2 separate regions of the Homo sapiens genome follow, and region 2 is linked to region 1. Evidence: fine-mapped expression QTL. Tissue or cell type: whole blood. Region 1 holds a variant in brackets; the other region holds the start of a gene. All regions are shown on one strand. Distances are between the middles of the regions.

Evidence for each region. PIP is the estimated chance that this variant, and not a neighbour inherited with it, causes the effect.
Region 2: it holds the start of SERPINE2, and the variant in region 1 is fine-mapped to the expression of SERPINE2 in whole blood (INTERVAL, PIP above 0.99).

Annotation. Positions count from the first base shown.
Region 1 is chr2:224,013,667-224,018,816 of GRCh38, forward strand. All of the region lies in intron 1 of SERPINE2 (serpin family E member 2), which reads right to left. It overlaps LOC124907990 (a long non-coding RNA gene), which reads left to right. Exons shown (of 2, transcript XR_007088102.1): 2 at 5,142-5,150. Among named protein-coding and RNA genes, the nearest start is that of SERPINE2, 23 kb to the right of the region's middle. RefSeq lists an enhancer at 1,422-1,921. The variant T/C (reference allele first, on the strand shown) is at 2,115.
Region 2 is chr2:224,036,439-224,041,588 of GRCh38, forward strand. SERPINE2 (serpin family E member 2) reads right to left here and starts at 2,848. Exons shown (of 9, transcript NM_001136528.2): 1 at 2,661-2,848. LOC124907991 (a long non-coding RNA gene) reads left to right here and starts at 2,964. Exons shown (of 2, transcript XR_007088103.1): 1 at 2,964-3,104. RefSeq lists a silencer at 3,014-3,308.

The DNA.
Region 1 (5,150 bases):
TTTGGCTTAGGAAGAAAAAGGCAGCCTGTAAGGAGTGACCAGGCGGTAGGTGGGGAGGACTGGTAATGTCATCCACGGTTCCCTACTGCTGCTTTGTGGGTTTCAGGAGGTGCACCGTGTCAGGAGGCTGGGGCTCCTCTATTCCTGCAGAGGAACAGCTGCCCAGTCACTCAGCCTGGGGTTCACACCTTCCGCAGTGCTTGTTGCAGGAGGTTCAGTGTAGTGTGTGCATGTCCACCTCCAGCTGCCAAACTTCTCAACAGGATGTAGATGAACCTGGGCTGACAAATTGGATAAGGTGGGCTGGCAGGCCAAAGCTTCAATTACCAGTACCACATCCTTTCCCTTCTAGGATACACAAAAGTAACTGGCCTCATTCCTTCCTCTCCCAAATAGAGAAGCCTTGGCTTGAAAATTCCAGGGAGTGGCCATGCGAGGTGGCTCATGCCTGTAATCCTAGCCCTTTGGGAAGCCAAGGTGGGTAGGTCACTTGAGGTCAGGAGATCGAGACCATCCTGGCTAACACAGTGAAACCCCATCTCTACTAAAAATACAAAAATTAGCCAGGCATGGTGGCGCACACCTGTTATCCCAGCTGCTCAAGAGGCTGAGGCAGGGGAATCACTAGAACCGAGGAGGCAGAGGTTGAAGTGAGCCAAGATCATGCCACTGCACTCCAGCCTGAGCAACAATCAAGACACTGTCTCAAAAAAAAAGAAAAAGAAAAAAAGAAAAATTCCAGGGAGAACCACTAGGTAAATTGGTATCAATGCAGTCATTGCATTGATGAGAAACAGTCTAGGACTTCAGACGGAGACTCTGATTCTAAACTAAGGAAAGTCAGAGGGAAAGTCAGAGGGATCATTGTGTGGCGCCTGGGGCGAGAGTGGGAATGTGTGTTCTCTTGTGCCCTAGAGCAGGCTTTCTTTATCTCGGCACTACTGACATAACTCTTCAGTGTGGGGGCTGTCTTGGGTACTGCATAAGGAAACCCATATCCACCTGAATACAGAAGACTCTAGATTCTCCTGGGTCTCAAGTGCCCAACAAAACCCACTTTGTTCCTTTGAAGTCAGGGTAGCATTTCCAAGGCTGCCGTGTAAACAAGTGTCCCCTATTAAGTTGGTTTATCCCTTAATTTATCCTACAAATATTAATGAAGCACCACAGTGCCAGGCCTGGCGCTGGGATGCTAGAGAGAGAATAGGCATGAAAAGGGGCTTGGTACCTGCCCTCCCACCTCTCAGAGTCTCAAGGCATGGTTCTCCACCTGGGTGACTCTGTCGCTCAGGGAGCATTTGGCACTATCTGAAGACATTTTTTTTGGTTTTCACCACTAGGTGGGGGCCAGGGAGGGTGGTGCCATGGCATCTGGTAGGTGGGGGCCAGGGAGGGTGGTGCCGTGGCATCTGCTAGGTGGGGGGAGGCCAGGGGTGCTGCTGAGCAGCACCCACAATGCACAAGACAGCCGCCTGCAACAAAGAATTATCCAGCGAAATGTCAGTAGTGCCAAGGTTGGGGAAGCCTGGTCTAGAGGGGAAACAGACCTTAATCAAATCGTCTTATTACTTGATATTTACTTTCATTTTCACGTATTTACTTTACAAATGCTCTGACATCGAGGAGAGTGTGTAAGAATGGAAGCAGAGGCACACCTGGGCCAGGGTGAGAGGCAGTGGCCAGGGAAGTGCTCCTGGGAAGGGCCACATGGGCAGACATTGGAGGATGGACTGGAAGTGACTGGACAAAGGGGCGGAGAGATGGAAGCAAGGAAGAGTATTCCAGACAGAAGCTCTCAAGTGCAAACAAACCTTGTGTTGGGAGGTACCATGGATTATTCTGGAAATATTTTTCCTTTCATACCATCATCACCTTACAGCCTTTGCAAGACAAGGGCAACTCTGTGTCCATGACTCCAACAAATAGGCAGCTCATCAAGACATACTGCAGAACCCAACCGGACAGAAACTGGAAGAATCATTCACACTCCAGTGTCTATCTTGTTCCATGGCTCTCTTTCTCACCACCCGGCACTGCGCATGACAACAGGCAGGAATCAAAACCCTAAGTTGACATTAAAAGCCTGAGTTTCATAAAACGAAAAACTGATAAAC[T/C]GAAAAACTGATCAATTGGACCTCATCAAAATGAAAAGTTTTACTCTGCAAAAGATCCTGCAAAGATGATGAAGAGACTAGGAGAAAATATTCTCCAATCACGTATCTGTCAAGGGACTAGTATCTAGACTACACAGAAAACTCTTAAACCCCAACTGTAAAAAAAAATCGGATTAGGAAATAAAAGACATGGATAGATATTCCATTAAAGAGGATGTATAAATGGTAAATACGTCCATTAAAAGATGTTCAACATCATTAGCCACTGGGGAAATCCAAATTTTTAAAACCACAATGAGATGTCACTATATGTCCAGATGAATGGCTAATACTAGTGACAACACCAATTGCTGGTGAGGATGCAGAGAAACTGGATCACTCACACATTGCTGGTGGGAATATAAAATGGCACAGCCGCTCTAGAAAACAGTTTGGTAGGTCAGGTGCAGTGGCTCACGCCTGTAATCCCAGCACTTTGGGAGGCCGAGACAGGCGGATCACCTGAGCCCGAGGTCATGAGTTCAAGACCAGCCTCACTAACATGGTGAAACCCTGTCTCTACTAAAAATATAAAAATTAGTCAGTCGTCGCGGCAGGTGCCTATAATCCCAGCTACTCGGGAGGCTGAAGCAGGAGAATCGCTTGAACCCGGGAGATGGAGGTTGCAGTGAGCCGAGGTTGTGCTATTGCACTCCAGCCTGGGCGACAAGAGCGAAAGTCCGTCTCAAAAAAAAAAAAAAAATAGTTTGGTAGTTTCTGTTTATTATTTATTTTTTTTTAATGTAAGTTTGGCCGTTTCTTACAAAACTAAACATGCACTTAACTGTATAATCCAGCAATGCTGGACATTTATTAGAGAGAAATGAAAATCATTTCACATAAAAACCTGTATACCAATGTTCACAGCAACTTTATTTTTTAATAGTCCCAAAGTGGAAACATCCCAGATGTTCTTCAGTAGGTGAATGGCTAAACTGTGGTACATCCACACCACAGACTACTACTCAGTAATAAAGAGAAATAAACTACTGACACACAAAACAACTTGGTTGGATTTCAAAGAACTATGCTGAATGGAAAAGCCTATTTCAAAAAGATGCATAGTGTGTAATTCCATGTATATAACATTGTTGAAATGACAAAGGTGCAGAGATGGAGAATAGATCAGTAGTCACCAGAAGTTAGAGAACAAGAGAGGGAAAGGGATGTGTGTGACGATAAAAGGGAGGCATGAGGGGTCCCTGTGGTGGAAATGTCCTGTATCTTGCCTGTGGTGGTGCCCACACAAGTCCATACATGTGATAAAACTGCATAGAAGTAAATGCACACACCCCAGTGAGTACCTGTAAACCTGGTGAAATCTGAATAGGGTGGGTGGATTGTGTGATGTCAGTTTCCTGGTTGTGGTACTGTACTACAGTTATGCAAGATAATGCCTTTGCAGGAAACCAGGTAAAGGGTACACGAGAGCTCTCTGAATTACTACTTTTTTTTTTTTACGACTGCATGTGAATCTATATAACTATCTCAAAATAACAACAAAAAAACCCTACTGTAAAATTTTAGTCAGCAAACAAATGCCAATGTACCTTAAGACAGATCTTTTTATTTCTTACTTTTTCCCTGTACTGCAAATGTACAATCACACAAAAATGTAATATTTTTGGTCCTTTCAAAAAGAATAGCTACAGTTTTAGGGTGCTTGCATAATTGTACATTCTCATAATTATTTGACTTATAACAGTATTAATTCTTATTCTATAAGAAATTAACAAAAGGATTTAGGACACTATACATGGCCCCTGCAGGTTCCTAAGACAAACCACCCAAGTTCAAATGTCACCTCCACTGCCAATTATCTGTATGACTTTTGACAAGTGCTAGCCTTCAGTGTGCCTCAGCTCCTCCATCTGAAAATCGGTGTAATAGTAGTTCTTACTTTAAGAGTTGTTATAAGGATTTTAAAAAGTACTATGTCTCAGGTTCTTAGGACAGTTCTTGAGGCCCCACTCGAAGCTGGCCTCTGCTGTTACCCCATTTACCACCATCATCACGAAGGCCTGGGGTCCTCTCTTCAGGCTTTGAAGGCCTATACTACAGTCCAGCTTAACATTTCCTCAAGGGCAAAATGTTCAAATATTATAATTTCTAAAAATCAAAACACATGTTTAAAGCTGCCTTTAAGACTTGTGGTCTTTTTTCAATTTCCTTTATTTCTTTGTTATTAGAGGGAGTCAAGGGTCTCTAGTATGTGACTTTATCAGACTTTCACATCTGGTCACAGGTCCTCAGGGAAGGTGACTTGAGAGGCCTTGCCCTCCCCAGGGGAAGCAGCTCAGCCCTGTGACTCCATCGACAGCCCTGATGATGGGCTTAGGAAATGATTGATGGTCACTGGCGACTGAGGAAATGGGCGTCAGGCTCTGGCGATTTTCCTTGTGTTCTTTCCAAGGCTGCCAACCTCATGAATAAGGAAGTGTTTTCCTACCAGCCTGAAACTGAAATAGGGTGGGATTATACTAACATAATTCTTTAAGAAGTTTTAGTGTGTTAAAGCCAGACCAGCCCTGCCTCAGTGGTCAACACATTCCATGATAGAAGTCTAGAGTTTAGGCCAACTCTCATCACAGTTTTGTTTAGATGGATGAAATACCTCATATAGAAAATGCTTGATCATTGCTCAAAGAGATCGTTTAGAAATAAATCTGAGCTCCACTGGAAAGCCTGTAACAATGGTAACTGGAAGATGAGGTAATCCAGGAGAAAAACCCTCCATTTTTGCAAGCAGACTCTAAAACACAGTACTTCTCAAAAAAAAAAAATAATAATAAAATAATAAAAGGGGTAGAAAGATATATAGAAGTCCCTTTATCATAGAAAACCAGGATGAGAAGAAAAAGTACTCCTCACCCCAACCCTGCTGTTCTCCCAGGTTCTATATCTTTCTAAGTGACACCACCAACTGTTCATCCAAGAACCTAAGCCAAAGTCTGGAAACTGTCCTTCATCATTTCCTTTATCCCACAGAACCATCAA
Region 2 (5,150 bases), 23 kb after region 1:
CAGGGACACAGGGAGGGAAACATCACACACTGGGGCCTGTGGTGGGGGGCGGGGAGTGAGGTAGGGGAGGGATAGCATTAGGAGAAATACCTAATGTGATGGGTTGATGGGTGCAGCAAACCACCATGGCACGTGTATACCTATGTAACAAACCTGCACGTTCTGCACATGTACCCCAGAGCTTAAAGCATATTAATAAAAATTAAAAAAAAAAAAAAAAGATTGCTTGTTCAGGAAGTCACAGGCCTTGAACTTTGAGGAGACTCTGGCCAGCTTGCAAAGAGCTGAACAGGAAGGGCAGACCAGTTTAAGAAGCCTGGAGAGACGTGGTTGTCACTACAGGTGAGCTGAGGATGCAGGGACAAGGGAGGTTAAGGCATTCTTAAAATACTACTAAAAAAGAAAAAAGCTCACAGGGAGAGACTGAAGATAAAAGTAAGAAAAGGGAGTAACACTCACAAGGAGAGAGAGGCACTGGGAGTTGGGATTCAGGACACAGCTGGAGACATTAGTCACTGCCCCAAGGAGGCCATCTCTCTATATTTCTCTAAGTTCTCAGTCTAACTTGATTTTTCTTTATAATTCTACCTTATTCATTTATCATACATTTTACAACATATTATGTTTGCTTTTAGTTGGTTTTCTCCCACAAGAATGACAGTTTCAAGCGAGCAAGGATCTGCTCTATTTACCACCTATGAGTATCCAACAAAGTACCCAGACACAGTAGATGCTTAAGAAGATTTATTGGATGACTGGGTAAACACAGAAAAGTCTGTACAGGGGAGATGGGGGAGGACGTGAGGAGATACTTATGACCTCTATTCTCCTGGTAGAATGGGCTACAAAGTCACCTGCCAAACCCGCAAGAGGAAAAGCATTGGAGATCGCTTGCATTGAAGATTACAGTGGGAGTCCGGTTTGCAACCCGGAAGGAAGGAGCTTGCGGGTTGGAGGCACTAAGAGTTTTCAGAAGTTGAGCATCTCAAGAGAGGGCAAGACTTGGAGGTACTTAGAGGACTTGGTAGCTGGAGTACATGGAAGACACTGGATTTGAGACAGTCAAGGAAGTGCGCATCTAGAGCGTCCCCCACATGGACTTTAGGTCTAGAGGAGGAGAAATAGCCCAAGAGCCAAAGTCCCCATGCGATGGGAAAAGAACTGGCTGGAAGAGGACAGCAAGGCTGAGATGCACCCAGGGACGTGGCCAGGTCACCACCTCATTTCCAACTCTACCACCTCAAACAATCTCTGACTGGTATTTAATCACCCTTGTGTGGAAGTGAAAATTAGCTTTTTTTGGAGACAGTACTTTTAAAATTAAACTAATATGAAGTTCATGGGACACGGAAATTTTCTGCATAGATTCATTTTTGTTTTTAGAATAAAATACGATGACATTTTCATGACCTTCAGTAATTGCCCTGCATGGTACGATATTTTCAAACATTATTTTAACAAAGAATCAAAATTTGGGGGTTAAAAGAAACCTTAGATTACTCAGGTTAGTACCTTCATTTGCATAGCCAAAAATTTTTCTATTGAAATACTGCAAATAGCAAATAAGTACTGATTTAGACCTTCAGATAGTGTTGAAACTGTCTTCAATTTTCGAAGTGTGGTTTAGGATATACAAATTAGCAATGTTGACAATTCTTCCAGTTATCTGTGCTCAAGTTTTGATATAAAATCTTCAAAGTACACAATTATCACATATATTGTTCCACAACAATTCAGACAAATAAACGGCTTCTTGGCTTGAAAGAGGAAGTCACACCTTCGAACACCTTTTTATGCTGATGCTAAATATAAGAACGTCCCCTGCAAAGTAGCCAAAGCAAGACAGCAGCATTCGAGATTTCTCCAGAGACACACACACAAAGAATGTGTTTCGTTCATTAAAACACTAAAACCTTCAACAGCATCTTCCATAATACCTGAAGGTGGAGTGCTGTCTTATGTAATAGAAGCCTTCCTTCCCCGCTCAGTTTGTGGACACATTAAATGCCTAATTCCTTCCAGAATTTCTGAGTACCGTACTTTCATTTTACCTGCAGTCACTCATCCGCCTCGCAACTCCCGTTTCTACAGATGATGAAAATAGCAAAGACCTGCTCGCTCGGGTTAAATCGGCTGCCAGAGGCCAAGTTAAAGGCTTTCCCCACACCGCGCGTCACCTCCCTCTGCCCAGGCAGAGGTAACAAGTAAGAGTGCGCCAGTCTCTCCCCATCCGGCGGCGCGCAGCCTAAGTCCGGGGTAGGGGTTGCCGGCGAGCAGCTGGAAACCTCAGGTTCAGGGTCAGGGCCGGCTCGGATGGCCGGGCAGGAGCCACGCCGGCCCCGGTGCTCCCAGCTGCGGGTATCACTGGACGCCACCCCGGGGCGGCCCCGCCTTGCCCTGCCCGGGTCCCGCTCGGGGCTCCCGGCGGGCGGGACCGGGATGCCCGGCGAGCACCCAGCCCCGGCCAAGGCGGCCCGCGGGAGGCTGAGAAAGTTCTCTGCTCCCCGACGTCGGCGCCCCAGGGTCCCGCTGGCCCCGCAGCTTCCCGGCCGGGCGCAAGGTCAGGGAGCAGGGCCGGTGGCGCGCGGAGCCCCGGGGAGCGTCCCCCGCCGAGGGCAGCGCCGGCCGCGCCCGGGACTCACCGCGCAGCCTGTACTCACCGCGCTCGCTGGATCCCCAGGGGGCGGCCGCGGAGGGCGGTGCGGCCGCAACCGGAGCGGGAGCCTGGTCTCGGCGGCGCGGGGAGTCGGAGGACGCAGCCAAGCGGCGGCGGCGAGGAGGGTCACAGCCGGAAAGAGGCAGCGGTGGCGCCTGCAGACGCCGCGCAGCCCGGGCAGCCCCACAGCGCAAGCTGGCTGCCGCGGCGGCGGGGGCTTTATCGGCGGCGCCGCGCGGGCCCCCGCCCCTTCCTGCCGCCCCCGCCCCCGGCCCGCCTTGCCCCGCCTTCCCGCCGCCTCCTTTGTGTGGCCGCGGGCCGCAGCGTCCCCGCGCCCGGCCTCCAGGACGCCCCCTCTCCGCCTGCGACTTCTCGGATGCCGCCCCGCCAGGGGTCCGTGTCGTGGGGCTGCGCCCGGAACGCGCCGGGGAGACGCGCAGACCCCGAGGTGCGGCGCCAGCCCGGGCCCAGCTGCACGTGGGTCTCCCGGATGGGGGTGTGTGAGGTGGCGGGGGGAATACCAGGGCTCGTACCGCGTCCCTGAGACGCAGGGCATGTCGTCTTGGCTGCCCCCTGGAAGAGACAGAGGGCGCCCTGAGACAGCGCTCAGTCCTCCGGGTGATGGGGAAACGGTGCCAGGACGCGGCCGGGAAGGGGCAGATAACCCCTCGAGGCGTTTTGCAGGGTGTCCTAGAGCTGACTTCTCCCTGCCTAGGGGACAGAGGAACGGCGGCAAGTCGCCTTAGGCAAATACAGACGAGGGGAACCAGAAAACTGGATTCCCGGCTATGGTGATAGCATGAGGTACCCGCAGCGTCCTGGGAACCCAGCCCTTCTCAGCCGGTAACCACTGCTGCTGGGACCCGGTGCGCGATAGACAGGCACATACCCCAGGGGCCTGCAACAAATGACCGTCCCGCTCCGGGCTCTGTTACCTGGACCTCTCTTAGTTGGTTCCTCCTTTGCCTCTAGTTAGGTTTCTGGGGACCCAAGGACCCAACTTTAATGACAGTAATTTATGTAGCCGTTAGTGTAGAATCGTCGCTAGCAGGCAGACGGCCCCAACAGCGAGGAAGAAATGTAAATCTCCCTATACACAGCCCTGGATTAAGGGTACAGCTACTGATGAGAGCCACTTGGAAGATCAGCCTGCAGTCACCCCTTGGCATGCAGGTGGCCGTGCCAGAGTGTGCACGTGTGTGTTGGGGAAGGGGTTGCTCTGAAAAGTGTAAAATCTGGACCAGCCTAAGGGTGTTCTCAGTCTCTCATAGAGGGAAACAGGCTATGGGAGGCTTGGTCCTAAAATAAGGAGCAAACAGTCTACAAAAATGAGCATCTGTTTAATTATTTTACAGTCATACCAAATATTTATATTCAGTTACAGGGTAACTTTCTTATTCTCTGTGCCTGAAATGCTTTTTGTCCCAGGATCTTCTATGTTGTCTGCATCCTTACACTTGAGGTCACAACTCAAATGTCCTCTCCCCTAGGAAGCCTCCCCTGACCACTTGAGATAAAGTCACTTTATCCCCTCTAACCTATGACTTCCTTCATAACCCTCATCATGAATTGATTTTTTTTTTACCTTGTTTCTTGCTAGTTTTCTTCTACTCTCTCTCATTGGAATATACTCCCAGAGACCAGGGAAGAGAAACTAATTTCAATATTGTTTCCAACTCACTCTATCCCTAGTGCCTAGAGCCATACCACACATATAGCAGTTACTCAATAAATTTTGTTGACGAGTGGATGAACTACTAGCCAAGTGACTTTTAGACATGCTAAGAACTGTTTCAGTGACAGTATTGTGCTTGGTCCAGTCAGGGCGGTGTGGGCTGGAGCTGGGAACAATTCAAAGGAGGGGGGAAAGCCCACAGGTGTGAATGAGCTCGTTCAGTGTGTTTGAAAAGCTGGGAGTATCCTCTTCCAGATGGAAGGGAGTCATTCAAGAAACTACTGGAGAAATAACTGGGAAATGTGGGTGAAGCCAGATTATTATGAAAATGTGCCAGAATCCCTGCATCCATTTCTGTCTCAATCACATTTCTAAATTAAAATTTGTAATAGAGGTAATTGTAGGCTGGCATGCAGTTGTTAAGAAATGATTCAGAGAGGTCTCTTTTACACTTTGCCAAGTCTTCCTCATGGTAACATTTTGCAAAACCATTGTATAATATCACAATCAGGATATTAACATTGATACGTTGATTCCTATCTCACACACTTTGGTTAATTATGTGTAACTTTAAATTTTTACTAAAGTTACTCAAACCAGTGAGAGAAATGCACAAAATTACTATTTTGAAGAGTTTCAGTCTCTTGTCTTGAAGGAGCCAATGTTTTTCAAGAAAAAACAACAACAAGCCTTTTTTGCTTTCCCAATTAGAGTGTAAATAGGGTCCAAATTCTTCATCTATGAAAGACGTTAGAAGTCCTTAGGACTTACCTCTTTGGGTTACACTTTAATGACTGACATTTACTTCCCCATTCTTTC